Regions from separate parts of the Homo sapiens genome. Here regions 2, 3, 4, 5 and 6 are each reported to be linked to region 1. Evidence: microRNA targets listed by miRTarBase, many of them from high-throughput screens and not tested one by one. Region 1 holds a microRNA gene; each other region holds the end of a gene's coding sequence.

Region 1 (4,089 bases):
ATTTTTTTTAGAGGCGAGGTCTCACTGTGTTGCCCAGGCTGGTCTCAAACTCCGGGTTTCAGCCTGTGCCCGGCCTTCTTTCATATAAAACCAGGATCCAATTAAAGCCTATGTAAACTTAAGATGTATGTATTAACTGAAGAAAAAACAGAGCATGCATCATTCAACATTCATTCAGCAAATGATTATTTAGTGCTGGACACTGTTTTAGGTACTGAACAAACTGTAGATAGAACAAACAAGGTCCATCTCTCATGGAGCTTACATTCTAGTGGGACAGGGAAGAGACAAAAAATAAGCAAGTAAATAAGGTCATTTCGAACGATAAGTGCAATGAAGGAAAATAGGATAATGTTTTCCCAGCACCATTTATTGAGTAGGGAAGCCTTTCCCCATTCTTTGTTTTCATCAGGTTTGTCGAAGATCAGATAGTTGTAGGTGTGCGGTCTTATTTCTGTATTCTCTATTCTGTTCTATTGGTCTGTGTGTCTCTTTTTGTACCAGTACCATGCTGTTTGGTAACTGTAGCACTGTAGCATAGTTTGAAGTCGGGTAGCATGATGCCTCCAGCTTTGTTCTTTTTGCTTAGGATTTGCCTTGGCTATTCAGGCTCTTTTTTGGTTCCCTATGAATTTTAAAATAAAATTTCCTAGTTCTGTGAAGAATCTCAGTGGTAGTTTAATAGTAATGGCATTAAGTCTATACATTGCCTTGGGCAGTGTGGCCATTTTAACGATATTGATTCTTCCTATCCATGAGCTTGGAATGTTTTTCCATTTGTTTGTGTCATCTCTGGTTTCTTTGAGCAGTGGTTTGTAGTTCTCCTTTCACCTCCCTAGTTAGCTGTATTCATAGGTATTTTCTTTTCGTGGCAATTGCAAATGATGGGAGTTTATTCCTGATTTGGCTCTCTGCTTGGCTGTTATTAGTGTATAATAATGCTAGTGATTTTTGCACATTTATTTTGTATCCTGAGACTTTGTTGAAGTTGTTTATCAGCTTAAGAATCTTTTGGGCTGAGACTATGGGTTATCTAGATATAAGATCATGTTGTCTGCAAACAGGGATAGTTTGACATCCTCTCCTCAATCCCATTACTGGGTATATACCCAAAGGAATATAAATCATTCTATTATAAAGACACATGCACACACATGTTCATTGCAGCACTATTCACAATAGCAAAGACATGAAATCAACCTAAATGCCCATCAATGATAGACTGGATAAAGAAAATGTAGTACATATACACCATGGAATACTATGCAGCCATAAAAAAGAACGAGATCATGTCCTTTGCAGGGCCATGGATGGAGCTGGAGGCCATTATCCTTAGCAAATCAATGCAGGAACAGAAAACCAAATACTGCATGTTCTCACTTATAGGTGGGAGCTAAATGATGTGGACACATGAACCCATAGAGGGGAACAACACATGTTGAGGCCTATCAGAGGGTGAAGGGTGGGAGGAGGGAGAGGATCAGGAAAAATGACTAATGTGTACTAGGCTTAATACCTGGGTGATGAAATAATCTGTGCAACAAAACCCCATGACACAAGTTTACCTGTGTAACAAATCTGCACATGTACCCCTGAACTTAAAGTTAAAAAAAAAAAGAAAAATAGGATAATGTGATAGAAAGTTAAGGAGTCAGCTAAGGCTATTTTGAGATGGTCAGGGAAGTATTTTCTGATAAAATAGCACTTGAGCTATGACCCTAATGGCAAGGAATCATCCTATTGGCCAGAATGTAATTGTGGGGGAGTGATATGAGAGGGAGATGAGGAGTGTAGAAGATATCAAAAATGTAGGCAGAGGCTATGTCATGTTTAGGCCTTCATGGGCCTTGGTACTGTTTGGATTTTATCTAATACTTAAGAGTCCATGAAACATTTTTTTTTTTCTAGAAGAATCTGTGTAAGATTGGTAGTATTCTCCAAATTCTGGGGGAGGAATTCAGTGCTCGAAGATATTGCAAGTCCTACAGAAATTTCACTGGCACGTTAAATCTTTAACATTTTAATAATCTCTGGAGTAATTTCATTATTGAGCCTATTGTGATCATATCCTGATACTTGTATAAGTGCCACCTAAATAATTAATGTGCCTTGAGTCCTTTATCTGTCTAAAATGGTTATAATGACCTTCCTCTAACAAACTCTGTGATGTGCACAAAGAATTATGGTTTTTTTTCCTCAGTATCAAGAGTAGCATTCAAATTGCTGTGCTTCTATAAATAGACAACTTAAGATTGAGAAGAGTATTGTATTGAGATTTGCAAATATATGATTGTCTTATTTTACCCTAATTTTTTCCAGCAGAAATGCAGTATCCATTTCTAACCTCCCAAATATATATATATATGTACGTATGTGTATATAAATGTATACGTAGATATATATGTATTTTTGGTGGGTTTAATTTTTTTCATCTTTTTTCATAGTTTTTTTAGGGGCTTCATTTAACTTCTGGTTAAGTCTTGATTTCTTTTATCTAAAGCATGTAGAATTTTAAGAAAACTATTCCCTGAATGTGGTTTTCTGTGTTATAAACTTTTGTATTTGTGCATATTTATGGAGCAATGCTTTGGGGAAAATAACAATTTTTATTCAGCCCCTTGCTTAAATCCTTAATCCTTTTTAGCTATAAAAGTACGTAGAAGTTCTTATCGTCCATTACAGTTTTTTAATGTTAAAAAGTTGAGCAAGTTTTCACATTTAAAGGTAAATATCCTATTGCAGAATAATAGAATATTGCTGATGGGTAACTTTCTTATGCAAATTACATTGTCCCATTTGGCATAAAATTTCTGAGCATCTATCAGTATTCAGAAATCTAAGCCCTTTAGGCTGGGCACAGTGGCTCACACCTATAATCCCAGCACTTTGGGAGGCTGAGGTGGGTAGATCACTTGAGGTCAGGAGTTCAAGACCAGCCTGGCCAACAAGGTGAAACTCTGTCTGTACTAAAATTACAAAAATTAGCCAGGTGTGGTGGCACGCGCCTATAATCCCAGCTACTCGGGAGGCTGAGGCAGGAGAATCACTTGAACCCGGGAAGCAGAGGTTGCAGTGAGCCAGGATTGTGCCACTGCACTCCAGCCTGGGTGACAGAGTAAAACTCTGTCTCAAAAAAAAAAAAAAAAAAAAAAGAAGAAGAAGAAATCAAAGCCCTTTAAGGGCCTTTGATTTATTAATGCTACATTTTCTCATTTGTACCCCTTTAAAGCATATTTTTAAAGAAAAGATGTCATCATTTGGTCTCTATTTCTTTTCTTTTTCAAACAGGAAACAGAGAACACTGCATACAAAGTTGGAAATGAGTCCCCTGTACAAGAATTGAAACAAGATGTGTCTAAAAAGGTTGGAAAGATACAATGTCAATATTAGTTTATAGCAGACATCATATTTATATGGTATATTTCAAACAGCTTTTATATTCTTTTAGTATAGCGCTCTGTACATGGCTGATGTTCAGCAAATGTTTCATGAATCTGTCACATTTGTGGTTGAAGACATTTCAGTCTTTTTAGAAGTCCTTTTCATATTCTAATTGGTAATTTATCCTTGAGACAATATTTTGTAAAATGCTTTTATTTTTTGTTCTTGTATTTTTATCAGAATAAGCCCTAACTCTTCTTGAGGTTACTACCAGGAGTTATGGGTATTGAAAAGCTCAGTGCAGCAACATTCTGATGTCTTTAGGAATCAGAAGTTATAAGAAGTCCTTACTCTGATAGTACCTGATACCTTTTAAAAAATTGATGCTATGAAGCTTCAAAGGTTGGTTTACTAGAAGAGACTGAGCACAAGATCAGTATTTTGAAAATGGGCAGTTTACAGTATCAGGATAAAACTCAAGGAGAAAGACAGGATGGTGTGTTTTTATTCATTTATACAAGTTTTAAGTGTTTTCTGTGCCCTAGGCAATGTTCTAGCCAGTGGGTTTCCAGAGGCTAACAAAATGACACATTCTCCACCCCAGAGTTTCTCCAGTACTGGCACTCGACATTTTGGGCTAATAGAGGGTAGGGGAAGGCCTGTTGTGTGCATTGTAAGATGTTTTAGCAGTATCCCCAGCTTCTACTT
Region 2 (4,089 bases), not on the chromosome of region 1:
CTGACAGGTCTTCAGCTCTCAGGCTATGCCTGGCTCAGGTGCTCAGCATCCAGTCCCAGGTCTTCATCAGCGCTTTTCTCTCCCCAGAACTGGTTCCGAACATCAGCAGACCCACCTCCCAAACACAGGAGCCAGGACTCATTGGTGCCCAAGAAGGAAAAGAAGAAAAATCTGGCAGGTGGAAAGAAGCGGGGCCGAAAGCCCAAGGAGCGGACCCCAGAGGAGCCTGTGGCCAAGCTGCCCCCGCGCCGGGACGACTGGCCTCCAGGATGCAGAGACAAGGGGGCCCGGGGCTCCACCGGCCGGAAGGTGGGAGTCAGCAAGGCGCCTGAAAAGTGAGCATGGTGCGTGGGGCCTGGCCCCCATGCAGCCGCCACACCGCCCTCTGTTCAAGGCAGGGCCAGCTCCGGGACCTCTGTCCTCCAGTTCTCCATCCCCCACCCCCGCCTCTTCATCCGTCCAGTGGGGCAGCCAGCCACTCTCCCTTCCCTGAAGGTGGCCCTTCCCCTGTTAAGGCTGCCACAGGGCACACCTGGGTTGGGGCTCCCCAAGGTGTGCCCAGCAGAAGTGCAATAGCCAGGAGGGTTGCCCCTCCTCATGGGAATGTGTCTGGGGTCTTGGTGCCACAGGGGCTGCAGCGCAGAGTAGGCAGATGGCCTTTGGCCCCCCGGCTCCGCTTCCTCAGGCCCTGCCGGGTCCCTTCCCTGGCTACCCCAAGGCTCAGGCATCCCTGGTGACCTGTGGTTCTGGGCTGGTGAGGGCACCTGAGCAACCTGGCACGGGCAGCCACCATCCTGGCCTCACCTCCACCCAACACTGGAACTCCAGCACCCCCAGCTACCTCCCAGGACAGACCCCTGTCTGACCACTGCCATGCTGACCTGACAGGCTCCGGCCTGCCCTTGGCCACCCACTTGGTCCCCTTGCTTCTGTTTTCTACCTCTCCAGGCCTGCCCACTACCCCCACCCCTGCTCCTCCTTTGTCAGTGCGATCCCTGCTGTGCTCAGGCCCTGCCCCCCAGGCCTGTCTGTAATTCTCCCAGCTTGGGGCAAGGGAGGGGTTTTGCTTCTTGTACCTACAGGGCAGCAGAAGCTTGATGCCCTTCAACACAGCTGCCAGCCCTGGGGGTGTGGGGCCCCTGGAGTGTGCTCTCCTCCAGTGTTCAGCCTTCTGGCACTGCAGGCCTAGGTTGGAGCAGCCTCGTGGAGTAGGGACGGACTAGTTCGGGCCCTGGGGTCTTGCTGGGGCCCATAGGCATGTGGGGCAGGAAGCTGGGCAGAGCTGGCCTGGCTCTGAGTGGCCACTGGGGGAAAGGCAGCCTTCTGTCTGCCAATCTGGGTAGGCCCAGTGGCCAAGCTCTCATGGGAGCCCCCTCCCCACTTTTTTTTTTAACCTGCCCCCATTGTTTCTGGTTGTGTGGTCATTTGATATGGGAACTGAAGGCCAGCCAGGGGAGGGGCTTGGCCAAAGTCACAGCAGGTTGATGGCAGCTCCAGAGCTGTCTTTGCCCCTTTGTGGCCCTGAGGACGGCTGGGTCTATAGGTAGGGCAGGGGTCAGGCAGGGAGTCCAGGGTGCCTGGAAGAGGTGGCCACAGCCTGTGGCTCCCTCCCTGGGGTCCTGCCTTCCAACCACGGCATTGCAGGGAGGATGAGGCTCAGAGGGGGTAGGTTTGGAGGGAGGCCATTTTCCAGGGTGGGTGGGAGTGGGCTGAGGGCTCGGCCCCACTGACCCTGGACGATGAGAATTTTGATGTTTGCCCGTGTGCGTGTGTCTCCTGGGTGTAGTGGATGCCAGTCTTGTTGCTGTGACAAGTAACAACCTTTTTTTTAAATTGTTTTTTATACAAACACTCGCAATCCGACATTTGGTGCTAAGGGTTTCCTGGTGCAGACGGTGGGCCTGGGGGCTGGGCTGGACCAGGGCGTGGGTCTCTGGGGTTGGGGTCCCTTGCTGCTCAGGGAGGCAGTACTGACTGGGCACTGCCTCTGCCCCCAGCACCCACCCTCCCCCATTCCCCAGGGAGAAGGGGCCCCACTGGGCTTGGCCTGCAGTAGTAGGGAGACAAGTTCCAGGAGCACTTTGGGGACTGGGGTTGCAGAACACTTCCTGTCTCTGGCTTCATCCTTGGGCCAGAAGGCTCCAACCCTCAGCAGCCCTTGCCAGATGTGCCAGGGAGTGGGTGTGGAGACCCGGACTCCCCCCACCCACGCACACCTCGGCCTGATGAGAGGATGGAGGCTGGGGCAGAGATGGGCGTGACCCAGCGTCAGAGGGTCGGGGGAGGCATTCCTTCCTGTGTCCCAGAGCTTCACTGGTGGAGCTGGAGGAGCCGGAGGTGGAGGGTGGGGTCTGGCAGCTGCTGCTGGGGCAGCCTCATGAGGGGAGGGGAGGGGAGGGGAGGGGAGCAGGCACTGGGCGGGGGCCTAGGTGCACTTTGTCCTTGCCACCAATGGCGGGAGGAGGGTGGACCTGAACACCTGCAGGGTGTGGTGCCTGCCCCAGCCTCTCAGGTACTTGGCCCTTGGGGAGAAGAGAAGAGGGTCTGGTTTTTGCTGGGGGTGAGTTTCCGGGACACTCCCAAAGCCCACAGATAATCCCTGGTGTGGGAAGAGGAGTCCTGGATACCTTGATGTTTAGCACTTTAACCCCCTTTGTCTTTAAGGTAGGCGTGGGGGCTACTGCCAGAAGTGGCTGTTGGGTCTGACCCCCTCCTTTCTGCCCTCCCTCTGCCACATGCTGGTCCGCAGAGCCCTCCTCCCAAGGGGTGGGGCCCTGGGTGGAGCTCAGCAGGGTCTGCCCACTCCCTACGCTGGCCCACATAGGCCTCCAGGAGCCCTCAGTGAGAGGGACCAGCATAGCTGACCCCCAGAGTGTGGTGGGCGCCGGCCCTGCCCGAGGCCCAGTCGGGGCCCTTTCTGCAGATCTACCTCTGGCTCAGCGCACGCCCCCTGCCCTGAGAACAGGAAAGGGCCCGGAAGGGCTGACTCACCGGGCCGACGCTCACACGAAAATGGGATGCACTTTATTTGCTGGTGCAAAGGCAGGTGAGGGTGCCTCCTGTGTGACCGTTGGCCCTCCTGCCTGGTGGCGCTGAAGGGAAGGAGCCAGTGAGCCTGACCCCGGGAGGGGCCGTCCCCGTGTGCCGCGTTTGGCGGGGCCCCAGGCGGCTCCCCCAGGCCCGGGTCTGGGGCCCCAGGCTTTCCCCTGCCTCGCGGCCGGGCGTCCCGTGCTTTGGGTTTCTTGGTTTGGGTTTTTTAATGCCAGTTCTCAGTACATAAGTGCATTTTGAAAGAGGTTCCAGCTATCACTTGTAACCATATATATATACATATATATTCTATCTACAAAGTGTTTATTTGCGAGATGTTTCAACGGTGAGTTCGGGCCCCGCCCGCCTTGTGACCATCTGTCCCCGGTCCTCGTCCCCGCCCCGCGCCCTGGTCCCGAGTGGCGTGGGGACGGGCCATCACTGTATGTATTAAAATGACTGTATCAAATAAATGTTTATTGATTTTTTTCCAGGGTTTTTGTGCGGCTCAGTTTGTGGTGAAAAACAGGGGGCGGGGCCCTCCAGGCACGTGGCGGAGGCTGCCGAACTACGGGTCCCCCATGCCCGCCGCGCGGCCTTGTGGGGCTTGTAGTCCGCGACGCGCGGCCTTGTGGGGCTTGTAGTCCGCGACGCGCGGCCTTGTGGGGCTTGTAGTCCGCGACGCGCGGCCTTGTGGGGCTTGTAGTCCGCGACGCGCGGCCTTGTGGGGCTTGTAGTCCGCGGTGGGCAAGAGAGGGACCCGCCAGCTCCCGGCGGCCCATGCGCGCCGCCCGGCCAGGCCCGCAAAGAGGCCTCCGAGCGCCATGGCTGCGCCCCCGGCCCGCGCGGACGCTGATCCTTCGCCCACGTCGCCACCTACGGCCCGAGACACACCAGGCCGGCAGGCTGAGAAAAGCGAGACCGCGTGCGAGGACCGGTAGGCGTGGGCCTCGCCTCCACTCCACTGGCGAGCGGGAAGGGGCTGCAGATCCGGCCGAGCTGGGCGGGTGGTCCGTCCCCGCCGCGAGCCCAAGTCCCCCACTCCCGGAGGCCAGGCGG
Region 3 (4,089 bases), not on the chromosome of region 1:
GTGGCACCACTCAGGGTAGGAGCTCCTCTCCTCATCTGATGGGTTGCCAAAGTGCTAGAAGTCAGGGGACTGGGCTGAGCCAGTGAAAGGTATTGCTGTAGGGGTGTGTGTGTGTGTGTGTGTGTGTGTGTGTGTGTGTGTGTGTGTGTATGTGTGTGTGATGCATGACATGCAAATGCATGTCCGGGAAGCCTGCCCCCAAGTCTCATCTCAGGCCATGTAACACAGACTGTCTTTCCTCCCCAGATCCGGCCCCACATCGCAACTCTTCGTAAGTACACCTATGGCAAGCACATTCTGGCCAAGCTGGAGAAGTACTACATGAAGAACGGTGTTGACTTAGGGCCCATCTGTGGCCCCCCTAATGGTATCATCTGAGGCAGTGTCACCCGCTGTTCCCTCATTCCCGCTGACCTCACTGGCCCACTGGCAAATCCAACCAGCAACCAGAAATGTTCTAGTGTAGAGTCTGAGACGGGCAAGTGGTTGCTCCAGGATTACTCCCTCCTCCAAAAAAGGAATCAAATCCACGAGTGGAAAAGCCTTTGTAAATTTAATTTTATTACACATAACATGTACTATTTTTTTTAATTGACTAATTGCCCTGCTGTTTTACTGGTGTATAGGATACTTGTACATAGGTAACCAATGTACATGGGAGGCCACATATTTTGTTCACTGTTGTATCTATATTTCACATGTGGAAACTTTCAGGGTGGTTGGTTTAACAAAAAAAAAAAGCTTTAAAAAAAAAAGAAAAAAAGGAAAAGGTTTTTAGCTCATTTGCCTGGCCGGCAAGTTTTGCAAATAGCTCTTCCCCACCTCCTCATTTTAGTAAAAAACAAACAAAAACAAAAAAACCTGAGAAGTTTGAATTGTAGTTAAATGACCCCAAACTGGCATTTAACACTGTTTATAAAAAATATATATATATATATATATATATATAATGAAAAAGGTTTCAGAGTTGCTAAAGCTTCAGTTTGTGACATTAAGTTTATGAAATTCTAAAAAATGCCTTTTTTGGAGACTATATTATGCTGAAGAAGGCTGTTCGTGAGGAGGAGATGCGAGCACCCAGAACGTCTTTTGAGGCTGGGCGGGTGTGATTGTTTACTGCCTACTGGATTTTTTTCTATTAACATTGAAAGGTAAAATCTGATTATTTAGCATGAGAAAAAAAAATCCAACTCTGCTTTTGGTCTTGCTTCTATAAATATATAGTGTATACTTGGTGTAGACTTTGCATATATACAAATTTGTAGTATTTTCTTGTTTTGATGTCTAATCTGTATCTATAATGTACCCTAGTAGTCGAACATACTTTTGATTGTACAATTGTACATTTGTATACCTGTAATGTAAATGTGGAGAAGTTTGAATCAACATAAACACGTTTTTTGGTAAGAAAAGAGAATTAGCCAGCCCTGTGCATTCAGTGTATATTCTCACCTTTTATGGTCGTAGCATATAGTGTTGTATATTGTAAATTGTAATTTCAACCAGAAGTAAATTTTTTTCTTTTGAAGGAATAAATGTTCTTTATACAGCCTAGTTAATGTTTAAAAAGAAAAAAATAGCTTGGTTTTATTTGTCATCTAGTCTCAAGTATAGCGAGATTCTTTCTAAATGTTATTCAAGATTGAGTTCTCACTAGTGTTTTTTTAATCCTAAAAAAGTAATGTTTTGATTTTGTGACAGTCAAAAGGACGTGCAAAAGTCTAGCCTTGCCCGAGCTTTCCTTACAATCAGAGCCCCTCTCACCTTGTAAAGTGTGAATCGCCCTTCCCTTTTGTACAGAAGATGAACTGTATTTTGCATTTTGTCTACTTGTAAGTGAATGTAACATACTGTCAATTTTCCTTGTTTGAATATAGAATTGTAACACTACACGGTGTACATTTCCAGAGCCTTGTGTATATTTCCAATGAACTTTTTTGCAAGCACACTTGTAACCATATGTGTATAATTAACAAACCTGTGTATGCTTATGCCTGGGCAACTATTTTTTGTAACTCTTGTGTAGATTGTCTCTAAACAATGTGTGATCTTTATTTTGAAAAATACAGAACTTTGGAATCTGGGTTTGTGCTTTATTTTAACCTCTCCCCCCACCCCACCCCCAGTGTAGTTCCCCAGGACAGCCCTTTCCTGCTCATGCTTCTTTCTGCTTGTTTTGTTGTTTTGTGAGGGTGGGAGGAGAGGTGCCAAACTAATGGCTCTTTGAGCCCAATTTAAACCAAAGATGTTTGGTTCAGCCTGCCCAGTGCATTCAGAATCAAGATACTGCACATACAAATCCAGATTTCCAACTCTGCACATCAGAATATTCTCCTTGGGCCCCTGAGATGAGCTGTCTGGGTTACAGCACCGTCTGTCTGGGCCTCTCCTCCTCCGCGTTTCCTCTGTTTGGGCTGCTCCATTTGCTCCCTGCCAACCTGTGCCCACTACTGAGGCCTGCCAAGCAGTCCAATGTCTGAGCATGCTCATCTCTTCAGACTGGGGAGCCTCTTTTAGCTTGTAACACAGGAGGCTGGAGCTCACAATTGTGCCCGTGGCCCTAGCCTGAGGATGCCATCTGCCCTTCTTCACCGACTTTGCTCCAGGGGCAGATTTGGTAAGTGTTGGCAGTTACAGGCTGGGTCCAGCCAGAGAGGCCAGGTGGAAGCCCACACCAGCTGGTGTCTGGAAGTGGAGCGTCAGGATGGTTGAAGGAACTTCACATGGGCCCCTCAAGGGGAAGGGCTAATCACTAACAGGCCCTGGGAATAGGGGGAGAAGAAAAGGAAGCTGAGGGGATGCAGGTTTCCAGTCCAGCATGTGATTTTGCCTCAGCAGCTGTCGTTGGGGCCCTTTCCCAGCATTCCCCACTGCAGTAGCCATCATGGCGCTTGCAGAGGTGGCATGCTGCGGGCATTGGGAACTGCAGTCCATGCTGCTCTGATAGCATGATTCCAGTCAGATTGACCTGGGGTCACATGTGGGTCTCGCCACTCTGTGTGCACTTGGGCAAGTTAGTTCACCTCATCTTTCACCAAATTCCTTGCTGGAAGTGGACCAAAGGTAACAGATCTATGTAAAGTGGCTCTCTTGTCATGTCATGGGAAATTATGGCAATTAAATTGTGTCCAGCACACTGGTGTAATAAATGATACCAGTTTCCCTGCACAGTTTTTGATGAACAAAACTATCTTTGTTCATTAGTTTACATAATAATGTCATTTGTTGTGAACCGACTCTGCGTCAAGTCACACATGAGATGGTTTTCACATGTTCTCAACAACTGTTCTGGGAACCAACAGCCCTGTGAAGAATGCGGCTGTCCCTATCTCATAGATGTGGAAATAGGTCCTAGGATCTGATGCAAGTCTTTTGATAGACCAACTCTGATCAATAAAGCTTTCCCCTTAGTTCATCATGCGAGGGGGTGGGCATGGGGGCAGACCCCTCCATCTGCAGGATTGGGTTTCATGGAGTGGCCTGGGCTCTGGGCCACCCCCTCTTCTGACCACCATTACTCTGCTACCAAGTCCGTCCCAAGGATTCTATGGCCCGGGCTGTCGTCACACACTGGGTACCGGCATTCTTGGTCTCTCTTCCAGAGTCCCTCCAATGTGCATTCCTCAGTTTATGTAATAACCCTTACCCTCTCACAGTGCTTTACAGTTTACAGAGTACTTTGTATTTGAGATACCATTGGTCCTTGTAGAAAGCTTTAGGGAGTCAGGGAGAGATGTTTCAGCCCTTTATACAGATGAGGAGTTTGAGACTTAAGCCCCGCAGTCAGTAACCAAGTGAGGATTTTATCTGAGGGTTCCTGACTCCCAGCCCAGTGCCCTGTCCATGTCATCCTGCCCTTGCCACCCGCCATTAGCCCCATGAATGGCCATCTTCTCTTTTTGAGGCTCAGAGGGATTGCAGAAGGGTGAGGCCCTGGGGAGTGAGGCATCCTTTTGAGGGAGGAAACCTGTAACTTTATGTAGTTACCATCTGTAGCCACACGAGGGTGCTGCCACCTAAAGCGAGTATTATGGAGGCCTAAGGGTTCAAGGTCAGGGTTGGGATGGCTTTCCCCTGGATTGAAGGGCT
Region 4 (4,089 bases), not on the chromosome of region 1:
TATCTCCCCGAGGTGTTTTCTGAATCTGTAGGCTCTGAGAACATGTAGGATTCACTCCTGTGGCATAATTTACAGAAGTGTTTCCCTTGTGGACTGCTGGTTCTGAAAAGCTGACATCCCCGCAATCATGGGCCTCCTGAGCTCTGCTTACACCACGCTGACCGGTGTTTCCTCTTTGGCCAGGGTGAGGACCCTTTCACCAGTGAAACTGTTGATCCAGAAATGGAAGGAGATGACAATTTAGGAGGTGAGGATAAGAAAGAGACACCTGAGGAGGTGGCCGCGGACGTCTTAGCAGAGGTGATTACAGCAGCAGTGAGGGCCGTAGATGGGGAAGGAGCGCCCGCTCCAGAGAGCAGCGGGGAGCCGGCTGAGGACGAAGGCCCCACGGACACAGCGGAGGCCGGTAGTGATCCTCAAGCCGAACAGCTGCTGGAAGAGCAGGTGCCCTGTGGAACGGCACATGAGAAGGGCGTCCCCAAGGCCAGAAGTGAGGCTGCAGAGGCTGGAAATGGCGCCGAGACAATGGCAGCAGAGGCAGAAAGTGCCCAAACCAGAGTTGCTCCTGCCCCAGCTGCCGCGGATGCTGAAGTGGAACAAACTGATGCAGAGTCTAAAGACGCTGTTCCCACAGAATGATGCTCATTTCCCTGTTCCAGGGAAGGCGTTGGGATGATGGATGCGTTGGTCTTTCTCCCTTGGTTTGTAAGCAGTACAAGGGCGTGTGCTCCCAGAATATGCTGTAATCTAATTTTGGTGAAGAGACCCAGCGTTTCCTCCTGAGCAGTGCCTCTCACGGCTTGTCTCATGCAGTCGTGTGGCTTCTTGCCCAGGTTTCAAAGCTGAAGTACATTGTCCTTAGCGGCTGTAACATGTCTCTTGACAGTAGTGCACTTGGAATAATAAAGGTTGGGTGATTATATCTTGATGATACATTACTTGTTCAATACAGCCACTGATGGAATGCTTCCTTTTTTATTTTTTTCCTTAATTTTTTTTTTTATTTGGTTGGGAACAGCTGAATACTAGGAATATATCTTGCTCTATAGAGGATTTTTTTTTGTATGTTTCAAGCTTCAGCCTTTAACCTATACCTTTGTAGTGCACCATATGGTGTGTGACTTTCACAGGACTTCGCAGCACCTGGTTCACATGTGGCACTGACCGCGTCACATCCACGCACTCCCAAAGGCCAGAAGTATCTGACCGACCTACGCCACTGGAAACACACCCACCGCAACCTCAAGAACCAGACTGTGCAGAGGGCATTGCGTCCCAATCTTTAGTCCTTGCTGAATCAGTTCTCTAATATTTTACCTCATTTGTGTTCCACCTCTAGATTACTTCAGGTTTTTTTCCTTTAAAATTAGTTACTACCACTCAAATGTATTTACAAAGAGAATTTGGCCAGGCACGGTGATGCATACCTATAATCCCAGCACTTCGGGAGGCCGTGGTGAGAGGATAGCTTAAGCCCAGGAGTTCAAGACCAACCTGGACAACATAGCAAGACCCCATCTCTTAAAAAAAAAGGAAAGAAAACTTGATGTGATTGCCATAGGTGGAATAATCCAACATAAATTGCCATAGATAGAAGGTATCTGTAATATATATATATATATATAAAATGAAATATATGTTTCATTTTAGAGAAATAACTATTACTTTAGATCTTTCCAAATCTGAGAAAGGGAGGCTAGCATGTGTTCAAGGTTAGCACGCAACAGAATTTCCTAAAATCAGAAGAATTGGAAGATCCTCCCCTTTTGAAATGGCCCTGCTGTGTCAGTTTCCCTGTGGCCTTTTGAACTGTACATCTCACATGTTGGGAAACGCTGGCCACTGGGAAATCATTAGAAAGGAGGCTGTAGAATATTTGCCGAGCCTCTACTGTATACCAGGGGCTAACTCACCAAGCACATTCTAGGAATTGGGCCCTGCTCATGAGGAGCCTTAGTGGAGATTCCAGGTGAATATTTATGAAAAAGTCAACATTAGAACTGAAAATGGAAATAAACTGCTTGAAAAGACGATGGTGCCTCTGGGTCATTTCTGCTCAGCATCCGTTTGTGTTGTGTAGATGCGTCTTAATCGCAGGGTGAGCATGCCTTTTAAGCTTGTTCTCTTAAGGCAAAAATGTCGGTAGCATTAAACAGTAGTGCAGAAAAACATCACTAGTGGAACTGCTTTATTTCCTTAATTTTCTTTTTTTTTTCTTTTTTTTTTTTTTTTTGAGACAGTCTTACTCTGTTGCCCAGGCTGGAGTGCAGTGGCGTGATCTTGGCTTACTGCAACCTCTGCCTCCCAGGATTACAGGCATGAGCTACTGCACCTGGCTCTCCCCTACCCCACACCTTTTTTTTCTTCTTATAAAAATCCAAGACCCGGCCAGGCATGGTGGCTCACACCTGTATTCCTGGCACTTTAGGAGACCAACGCAGGTGGATCAGTAGAGGTCGGGAGTTCAAGACCAGCCTGGCCAACATGGCAAAACCCTGTCTATACCAAAAATACAAAAATTAGCTGGGTGTGGTGGCACACACCTGTAATCCCAGCTGCTGGGGAAGCTGAGGCAGAAGAATCGCTTGAACCAGGGAGGCAGAGGCTGCAGTGAGTCGAGGTTGCGCTACTGCACTCCAGCCTGGGCAACAGAGCAAGAATTTGTCTCAAAAAAATAAAATATCAGGCCAGGTGTGGTGGCTCATGCCTGTAATCCCAGGACTTTGGGAGGCCAAGGCGGGCAGATCACAAGGTCAGGAGATCGAGAGCATCTTGGCCAACGTGGTGAAACCCCATCTCTACTAAAAATACACAATTAGCCAGGCGTGGTGGCAGGTGCCTGTAGTCCCAGCTACTCTGGAGGCTGAGGCAGGAAAATCACTTGAACTCTGGAGGCAGAGGTTGCAGTGAGCTGATACTGCATCACTGCACTCCAGCCTGAGCGACGAGCAAAATTTCGTTTCAAAATATGTATATGTCAATCCAAGACCTGTCATTAAATTGGTCTGAATGTCAGTGAGGCTCTTCCACCTTCCACCTCTTGGTGAAACTACATAATTCTGTTGTTGTTGTTGTTGGTTTTACAGGCAGGATCTCACTGTTGCCCAGGCTGGAGTGCGGTGGCACCACAGCAGCTCACTGCGGCCTCCAAATCCTGGTTTCAAGTGATCCTCCCACTTCAGCCTCTTGATTAGCTGGGACTACAGGAGTGCACCACTATGCCCAGCTAATTTTTAAAAGCCTTGTAGCCAGGCATGGTGGCTCATGCCTGTAGTCCCAGCACTTTGGGAGGCCAAGGCAGGTGGATGGTCTGAGGTCAGGAGTTCAAGACCAGCCTGGCCAGCATGGTGAAACCCCGTCTCTACTAAAAATATAAAAATTAGCTAGGCATGGTGGCAGATGCCTGTAATCCCAGCTACTCGGGAAGCTGAGGCAGGAGAATCGCTTGAACCTGGGAGGTGGAGGTTGAAGTGAGCTGAGATCACGCCACTGCACTCCAGCCTGAGCCAACAGAGCGAGATTCCATCTGGAAAAAAAAGTCTTGTAAGCCGGGCGTTGTGGCTCATGCCTGTAATCCCAGCACTTTGGGAGGCTGAGGCGGGTGGATCACCTGATGTCAGGAGTTAGAGACCAGCCTAGCCAACATGGTGAAACCCCGTCTCTACTAAAAATACAAAAAATTAGCCAGGTGTGGTGGCAGGTGCCTGTAATCCCAGCTACTCAGAAGGCTGAGGCAGGAGAATTTCTTGAACCCAGGAGGCGGAGGTTGCAGTGAGCCGAGGTCATGCCATTGCACTCCATCCTGGGCAACAAGAGTGAGACTCCATCTCAAAAAAAAAAAATTACTTCTATGTTTTATTCCAATAATTTAATAATGTTAGCTCATATTTAGGTCTGTAGTTCATTTTAATTTTTGTTTGTTTTGTTTTGTTTTGTTTTGAGACGGAGTCTGGCTCTGTCGCCCAGGCTGGAGTGCAGTGGCGCGATCTCAGCTCACTGCAAGCTCAGCCTCCCGGGTTCACACCATTCTCCTGCCTCAGCCTCCCGAGTAGCTGGGACTACTGGCGCCCGCCACCACGCCCAGCTAAT
Region 5 (4,089 bases), not on the chromosome of region 1:
TAACTGCAAAACCTTTTGGGTTATTCTGTCACATGTCAGAGAAGCCATGGACAAAACTACATGGCCAACTGCAGAGACACTTATATACATTATCTTACTTTCATTCGATATGCTTTTGGTGCCATTTTTCCATTGTAGGTTCTAGCGAAGGACCCAAAGTATTAGTGGTATTTTAACAGTTAATACAACCAAATAGCACATGCCTGCTGGTTTGCAAGTGGGGGTAATGCAAGCTGTATAGCTGGTCACCCATTAGGTCTTAAAATTTAGGAGGATTAAACTTAAAAACTAGAATATGAAAAATACTGACAATGGCAGTGACTTAGTAAGGCAAGTACTTGATTCCCATTCTTATCCATCATACCTCTTCCCCCAATCCCCTGCAATAAACCACAGCTTTTAATTTAGAGCATATTTTGAGAAAAACCCTAGACTGAAAACTTGGATCAAGGCAGGGCCTATTAATACGTATCAGACCTGGTGCGGTGGCTCACGCCTGTAATCCCAGAACTTTGGGAGGCTGAGGCAGGTGGATTGCTTGAGCTCAGGAGTTCAAGACCAGCCTGGGCAACATGGAGAAACCCTGTCTCTACCCAACACAAAACCATCAAAACTTGAGTATCTTGTGTTTAACAATCGCAGTATCCATGAGTTAAGAAGGCACATGCGTCATTAGTGACTAAATGACTAGTTTTCTCAAAGCTGGGTCTGGAAGCCGTATGTTCTGAACATGGGATTAAGTAATTACAATCCCTCAGTATTTCATTTCATAAATTGAGTAAATGATAGAATAAATGCCCTATAGCCTTTTAGGGCAGGTGATGTTCATGAACATGCTAACAAAGCTATGAAAAATACAAACATAAATAATACTGAGATCTATTTTTGGTCCTTCAGCTTCTGACCAAAAGATGGTGAAACTCTTCTACATCTGGCACTGTGCATCAAGAGAATTTTACTCCTTGACATCTCCTGCTTCGGCCTCACAAGTAGCTGGGACTACAGGCATGCACCACCACGCACAGCTTATTTTCGTATTTTTAGTAGAGACAGGGCTTCACCATGTTGGCCAGGCTGGTCTCGAACTCCTGACCTCAGGTGATCCGCCCACCTCAGCCTCCCAAAGTGCTGGGATTATAGGCATGAGCCACCACGCCCGGCTGACAGATTTGTTTTCAATATGAGTTTGGCTACTTCAGAACAGGGGCCATGACTATCTGCCATGACAATAGTTACTTTAGTTGAATGATCTCCAGAGTTCTTCAAAGTGAGAAGTCAAGGCTTTGGATGATAATCCTTTTCTAGAGTATAATGTAATTTTTTTTTTTTTTTTTTAAGACGGAGTTTCACTCTTTTGCCCAGGCTGGAGTGAAGTGGCTTGATGTTGGCTCATTGCAACCTCTGACTCCCGCCCCAGGTTCAAGCAATTCTCCTGCCTCAGCTTCCCAAGTAGCTGGGATTATAGGCACCTGCCACCAGGCCAGCTAATTTTTGTATTTTTAGTAGAGACAGGGTTTTGCCATGCTGGCCAGGCTGGTCTCAAACTCCTGACCTCAGGTGATCCACCTCCCTTGGCCTCCCAAAGTGTTAGGATTACAGGCATGAGCCATTGCTCCCGGCTGTATAATGTACTTTTTTTTTGTATTTTTAGTAGAGATGGGGTTTCACCATGTTGCCCAGGCTGGTCTCGTACTCCTGAGCTCAGGCAATTCACCCGCCTCGGCCTCCCAAAGTGCTAGGATTACAGGCATGAGCCACTGCGACTGGCCAGTACTCTTGACCACTATTTTTAATACATGACAAACCCTCTTGCTTCAGATTTTAGGAAATGATTATAAGCTCCAAGAATCATTATTTAGAGAATACTTTATTAGTTTCTGTAATCAAACCCATGTAGATAAGACCTTACATATTTAATACAGTGCGTTACCCCTGTACAAATGGAAAAAAATTAAGTTTAACGTTTCTAGACCAATATGGCTGTTAATTTCTGTACAATGCCAACTCAACACAGTAAACCGGGATACTTTTTCCAAAGTTGACAGCACAGCTAAAGTTTCCAAAAATTCAAATTATATATATATATGTATATATATATATATATTTATATAAAAAGACCAATAGCAGTATGTTATGCATCAATAGCAGCAACAGCTTTTCCAGGTTCTGCAGTCATCTGAATAAAATTATAGAGACATCCAGCACACTCCATTTAAAAAAAAGGGGGGAAAAAGGTAAAAAACAAAACCCCAGAAAATTGCAAAGTTCTGTTACTGTTGTGGTACCTGGCACCGTTTTTTAAAATTAGCTTCTGAATCATCATCTGGAAAGAAAACATTCTAGAATAACATCATTAAAAACAGCTCTGATAAAGCACGGTCACTACTACGTATCATAAAGCAGGTACAAGATATTTTACATTCACAGAGGTATGATACAGTACTGTCCTATATCTATAATACTAGAGGATACAATTAAAAAGGCATTATTTGAGACTTGATTCTACTTTTCCAGCAGAGGGCCCAAAGGATGGCATGACACAGCTCTGTAAAGAAATGCACCTTCTTAGGATTTCCTTTAATTAGTGGCACAGTTCTAGGTACTCACTGTTCTTCATAAACACCAGCTAAAAACTGGTATAAAAAAAAAAAGAAAAAAACCCCCAAATCATGGGATTCATACAAAGATGACTGAGTGGGGGCAAGGAAGACTCAACCTAACCAGCATTTTACCAAATCTGTCATGTTTGAATCGTGAGAGCTCCATGGAAGAAAGGAGATGCTAAGTAGCGCTTCAAAGCTTCAGACCACAACCAAAACACAGCACCATTTCAAATAGAAGCAGTAGCCAAACACTGCTCACTTTGATATGGTTCAAGGATGCTGACATCAATATTTATCTGCTCATTCATCCAGGAAGAAGGGGACATCAGTTACTACTGTACTTTGATTGTGTTCAACTCAATCACCATGTTATAAAAATAGCAAGCTGCCATAATAAAAAATAAGGCTCCTCTATCCAGCACCAGTTATCTTCAGTTCTTTACCTCCAAGCCTACAAATGCCATAACCATATCCGAAGAACATAAGGGAGCAAAAAAACCGCATCTGATGTAGTAGCTGGGACCATCACACTGTTCAGGCTGAGCTATTCCTCTGCTGTGTTATTTTCCTTATATTTTTGGTGTTTCATCTAATCATAAGGATTTTTAGGTCTAAATTATATGCACTCAAAAAAATGGGTGCATACATTTATATATAAATTCTGACTGAAGATGCATGGCCATCAACCAAGCACATGTTATATAGTAGGTACAAGCTTGCAAAGCCTCGTTTTCACTGGTACAGCAGCTGTGTGTCAGTGTAAATTGCTCCTATGTCCCTTGTACATCTCCAAGCTCTGAACAGGATAATGTCACAGGCCATTTTGCCCCTTTGGCTGCCAGCATTATCTGACTTAATTCTCCATGTTTTCCCGCCCCCCTCCCAATCCCCTGCAATAAACCATAGCCTTTAAGATTTTGTTTCTTCGGTTTTGATCGCCTGAGGTTTGATTGGTCCAGTTCTAACAGGTTTGGTGGCTATGGAGGGTGCAGGGGGTGGCTTTTCTTCTACTTTTTCCTGACAGACCCCAGGAGGGTCGGTCAGTGTTTCAGGAGGTTTACTTGAATCACTGTCCACTTTCTGGGCTTTGCCTCCTCCTATCTGTTTGCTCTGTTGCTGTTCAGAGAAGAACCGTTGCGTGGACTGAAGAACCTCTGCTCTCTGCTTTGCCTTAAAAAATGAGAAAGAACAACTGAAAATACTGCAGCATTACCAAAGCCTGTCAAATCAATCTTGGTTCAAATTCTTTTACCAATCACAAATCAGTTTTCCCCACACTGGTTTGGCCAAAGCCAAAAGTACCTCATTGATCTTTGAGCTTTTAATGAATAGATTTCTTCCTATTTTTGAAATATTTCATGTGATTTAAAAAAAAAAAAAAAACCACAGGACCACCTCCCACCACCTTTTCAAGGTCTGCCCTCTCATATTAAATTTTATTTAGGGAACCTGCTTGCAAATCTAAAAACATACATGTAACACTTAA
Region 6 (4,089 bases), not on the chromosome of region 1:
AGTACAGTGCGGAAACTTCTACCAATGACTTACTAAATAGCTCAGTTCCTACATCAAGTCCTTAAAAGATTCTGGAAAAGAGGTAAGTAGCAGAGCAAAAAAGTATCTCAATCCACTTTTTTTTTTTTGCTATAACAGAATACCTGAGACTGGGCAATTTATAAAGAAAACAGATTTATTTTGGCTTATGAGTCCAAAGGCTGAGGAGTCCAAGATCAGGGAGCCCATCTGATGAGGGCCTCATGCTGCTTCAACTCATGGTGGAAAGCAGATGGTGAACTGAGGAGGGCAAAGAGAACAGAACACAAGAAGCATCCTCACTTCATAACAACCCACTCTTGTGAGAATTCATCCATTCCTGCAAGAGCGAATCCATTCCAGAACTAACTGAGCCTCATGAGAAAGCCTTTAATCCATCTCAATGACCTAATCACCTCTTAAAGGCACCACCTACCAACACAATCAAACTGGGGACTCAGGCCTCAGCATGAGTTTTGGTGAGGACAAACCATATCCAAACCATAGCAGGAAGTTTAAAAAAGCGAGTGGCGGAAGCCTCAGTGGAAACGAAAACTTCTAGACCATTTACCATTAATGCAGAGGCTACATTCTTTCAGTCTATAAGGATCTTTATCTAAAAGTTAATAAACATGCTATCAACTTAGAAAGGCTGAAGTTTCTCTTCCTTTTTAAATGTTTTCACTTTGTCTATTATCCACTATCATTTTAGGAAAGCATTTAATAAAAATAAAACCTTTATTTCTATTGTATAATACAAAAGGTTTTAAGAATATTCTTCTGTGCCTCAAATTATATTCACTTTTTAAATATACATATATATATATATGTATATTCAAATTTTTTCATAGAGATGAGCTTTCACCATGTTGCCCAGGCTGGTCCTGGGCTCAAAATATCTGCCTGCTTCAGCCCAAAGTGCTGGGATTACTGGCATGAGCCATCACACCCGGCCTATCTTCACTCTTACTTATAGCAAAGTAAGGTAATAAATGCTGGAAAACATCCAAATTCTTTTTGTATGGAATTTGGCTAAAAGAACCCAGTGCTCAAACCACACTGTAAGTTCATGAAACAGAGAAAAACATGTACCCTAAACCTAGGTTCTGAATCTTTCGCATATTTTAACGTCAGTTCTGTTTATGGAATTTGGGTCTGTTTTCCTGGTGTGGAAGTGTACTTGAAGTAGGGTGAAACAAAGGCAGGTTGAGATACCTGTGATTAATAAAAGTAAAATAATTTCAAGTCAACTTAATTCATTTCTCCAATCTCATAGTGCACACCCACCAGGTTCTTTAATTATGGAAAGATGGTCTTTCTGCATCCAGAGAAAACATCTGATATTACACTGAAAATTTAGTGAAATCTATAAAACACTATTACTTTAGGTCATCCAAGAGGGCAGGAAAATAACTGTTACAAAAAATATTTTTGTATTTTTGTAATGGGATTTTACCTATAACAATGGTAAAAGCTCACATTTACTGAGTGACCAGTATGTGTCAGATAATTAAGAATTTTACACGGATTGACTTAATCCTCCCAAAAACCCTATAAATTAGATGTGATTACCATTATTAGCCCTGTTTTATAGATGGAAAGTAAGCTTGGGTAATTTAAGCTCATTTCCATTCTACAACAGGATTCAAACATGAGGTGTCAGTTAGCACGCTTAATCTCCATGCTACACCGTGTTCCCGTCTATGTAGAAAGATGAGTATCTTCCCACCTATGTAGAAATATGAGTATGCTCCATTCAGGTAAAATCCCATCTCCTGTCAGATTTTTCTCTCTTGCAGCTCATTTAAAATACATCCTGAAAGTTATTTGATCATAAGATGTAATTCCTTTAAAGCATAGTTTTTGACTTAAAAATTAAATATTTTCCCTATTACATTTTTAAATTTTTACTATCTCCAAAAATGTATAAAACATTTGAAACATGTTAAAAACAGAATAAGACAAAAAAATTCATGTTTTAAAGGAACATATCTGGTTAGCTGGTATTCCATTGAAAGTATCTTATAATAAACACAAATTTTAATTTTTCATTTAACAACACTAAAGAATGAGGTATATAAATGTTTTAATCACAGACTTTTACTGTATGCAATTAATTGTATTTCACAACTAGCATCTTACAAAAAAGACAGTACCACTGTGCCTGTAAAAAGTACTGTAATTAAACAGAAAATTACATTACCACATGAAACCACCAAATATCACAACTGTTAGGGTCTACAGTTTTATTTTTTCTTCAAATGTTATCATGATGTCTTATGTGATATTTTGCATCCACATTCTATTTTTAAGTTCATTTACAATTCAGAAGTCTCCTTTAGGTAGATATATATTAAGCAAATGGTTAAGAGAAAGCAGGAGACCCCAGGAGAATTTAAGTACTGTGTGGTTTCTAGGTTGAAATTCTAAATACAACATAAAACTCTTTAAATAGTTGTAAACAAAAATGCAAAATCTGTAGTCATAAAAATATTTTATTGGTAATTTTACATAGTATAAGTGGGGCTATACTTTTTTCCTTTCAGGATACTGAGAAATGTGTAAACTGGCAGCTGTGTCTGAAAATAGGGTACTATGATTTTCATAAGAATTATTGTATTTAATAAGAAGCCAATTTGACTGATTTAAAATTAGTTATTTCCCATTTCTGTGCAATAATTCCCATTTCTGTTTTAATTAGATTCATACTTCTATGGCCCTGGATAAGTTTGGGACAAGAAAACAATGATAAAACTATCATTAAGTTAAAGCTTTTCTAAAATTGCAGCTTGTAAAATATGGCAAGTTTCTTTTCTCTTGTTTTTGCCAAATGCTTATAATTATTTGAATTTTAATGTTTTATATGATACAGAAAATACCAGTGTTCAATGACAATAGCACTAAACCTGAATTATAAAGCTAAATAATCAATGTTTTATTGTTTACTAGTCCGCTAGTAAACATTACAATAAATGAATGTTTTGAAAAATAAGCAAACAAAAAAACCTCAAAAAATAGATAAAACCAGAAACATAATTCAGGAACAATAATTAGTAAAACGTGTCAAAAACATTGGCAAAGGTTCATACAAATTCTTTATTTAATAACAATTTTCCTATTTAACCACACCAAGTACCAGCAGGTGTATTTAAGAGGATAACCATTAAGAAAAACCTGTTGCAGCAATAGTTAAGTTGTTCTTTGACTTGTATACATATAACTATCTGTTTCACAATTCTCAAATAATACATATTTAGGCAGCTTGCACTATGTTATAAAAAATTTAAATTCGTTACATGCCAATAGTAGAGAATTCAAGAATTATGTGTTAGAATTCACTAAACTAAAAGTGAAAATACACTTACCAATAACACTGCATAATGAATAATTCAACCACATTTTCATGGCACTTAACTGCAGAGACCAAAATGTTAAGTCTGGAAATGTTTGGTAGGCATCATTGCAATAAAATCTAACAAATTCTAACAAATTTCTATTTTATGTAAAACTCAAATTATGGATTGTGCATGAATGTATCTGTCATGAAAATGTGGTACCTCTTGGCATAATCTGTGTATTTGCATGGTAGGACAGAAGTGACTAAGAAATTGGAGAAAATAAACTTTAATGAGATTCTCCATTCAATGATGAGGCTTCTCCTCTGGGTGAAGATGACCTGGACATTCCTCTCTCTGTGTTATCAGAGCTAGAGCCGCTTTGACTGTGTTGATCTGCAGAAGCAGCACTAGATGCAGGCGGTGACTTTGTTTTCTCCTTAAAGTCTGTAATAATGACTGTCAGATCTCCAACAGTAACTTCCAAATGCTGAGCACTACTCCGATCCACATTTTTCAATCTTGGCCTAAACATAAAAAAATGAAATTTTAAACTAGCTTTTCCCTCTACCAAATTTCTGAGCATATAATAAATAATAAAAGTGGTAAAAGTAACAAAATGAATACATGTATTTAAGGCAATTTATGTGTAACTAGCCACAAAAACATCATAAAATGTTTCAACTCATTAACATTAATCAAACCAATCATTCATGAACATTCTTCAATGCAACCA

Evidence for each region. Region 1 holds the annotated microRNA hsa-miR-1277-5p (AAAUAUAUAUAUAUAUGUACGUAU, at 2,350-2,373, shown strand). A microRNA usually pairs through its seed, bases 2 to 8, with sites in the 3' UTR of a target mRNA and lowers its output. Matches are read on the target gene's strand: a 7mer-m8 pairs with bases 2 to 8, a 7mer-A1 pairs with bases 2 to 7 and ends in A, and an 8mer does both.
Region 2: the mRNA of ZNF512B is a reported target of hsa-miR-1277-5p. Seed matches in the 3' UTR shown: 7mer-m8 at 3,333-3,339.
Region 3: the mRNA of PUM1 is a reported target of hsa-miR-1277-5p. Seed matches in the 3' UTR shown: 7mer-A1 at 1,032-1,038.
Region 4: the mRNA of AKAP8 is a reported target of hsa-miR-1277-5p. The part of its 3' UTR that is shown has no 7-base or 8-base seed match.
Region 5: miRTarBase lists PRRC2C as a target of hsa-miR-1277-5p. The part of its 3' UTR that is shown has no 7-base or 8-base seed match.
Region 6: miRTarBase lists YAF2 as a target of hsa-miR-1277-5p. The part of its 3' UTR that is shown has no 7-base or 8-base seed match.

What each region holds. Positions count from the first base shown.
Region 1 is chrX:118,384,052-118,388,140 of GRCh38, forward strand. It overlaps MIR1277 (microRNA 1277), which reads left to right and starts at 2,343; the gene lies at 2,343-2,420. It overlaps WDR44 (WD repeat domain 44), which reads left to right. Exons shown (of 20, transcript NM_019045.5): 3 at 3,289-3,363.
Region 2 is chr20:63,956,138-63,960,226 of GRCh38, reverse strand. It overlaps ZNF512B (zinc finger protein 512B), which reads left to right. Exons shown (of 17, transcript NM_020713.3): 17 at 88-3,523. The coding sequence ends at 339. UCKL1 (uridine-cytidine kinase 1 like 1) reads left to right here and starts at 3,811. Exons shown (of 15, transcript NM_017859.4): 1 at 3,811-3,967. The coding sequence starts at 3,855. UCKL1-AS1 (UCKL1 antisense RNA 1) reads right to left here. Exons shown (of 1, transcript NR_027287.2): 1 at 3,242-4,089. RefSeq lists enhancers at 1,852-2,737, 2,738-3,625, 3,655-3,714 and silencers at 3,045-3,254, 3,845-4,089.
Region 3 is chr1:30,929,500-30,933,588 of GRCh38, reverse strand. It overlaps PUM1 (pumilio RNA binding family member 1), which reads left to right. Exons shown (of 22, transcript NM_001020658.2): 22 at 247-2,083. The coding sequence ends at 378. Among named protein-coding and RNA genes, the nearest start is that of SNORD103A, 4.2 kb to the left of the region's middle.
Region 4 is chr19:15,351,465-15,355,553 of GRCh38, reverse strand. AKAP8 (A-kinase anchoring protein 8) reads left to right here. Exons shown (of 14, transcript NM_005858.4): 14 at 184-2,169. The coding sequence ends at 639. The region is part of intron 3 of LOC124904643 (a long non-coding RNA gene); the gene reads right to left. Among named protein-coding and RNA genes, the nearest start is that of BRD4, 21 kb to the right of the region's middle.
Region 5 is chr1:171,591,271-171,595,359 of GRCh38, reverse strand. It overlaps PRRC2C (proline rich coiled-coil 2C), which reads right to left. Exons shown (of 35, transcript NM_001387844.1): 35 at 1,849-3,773. The coding sequence ends at 3,513. Among named protein-coding and RNA genes, the nearest start is that of MYOCOS, 29 kb to the left of the region's middle.
Region 6 is chr12:42,156,947-42,161,035 of GRCh38, forward strand. YAF2 (YY1 associated factor 2) reads right to left here. Exons shown (of 4, transcript NM_005748.6): 4 at 158-3,880. The coding sequence ends at 3,643. Among named protein-coding and RNA genes, the nearest start is that of GXYLT1, 14 kb to the left of the region's middle.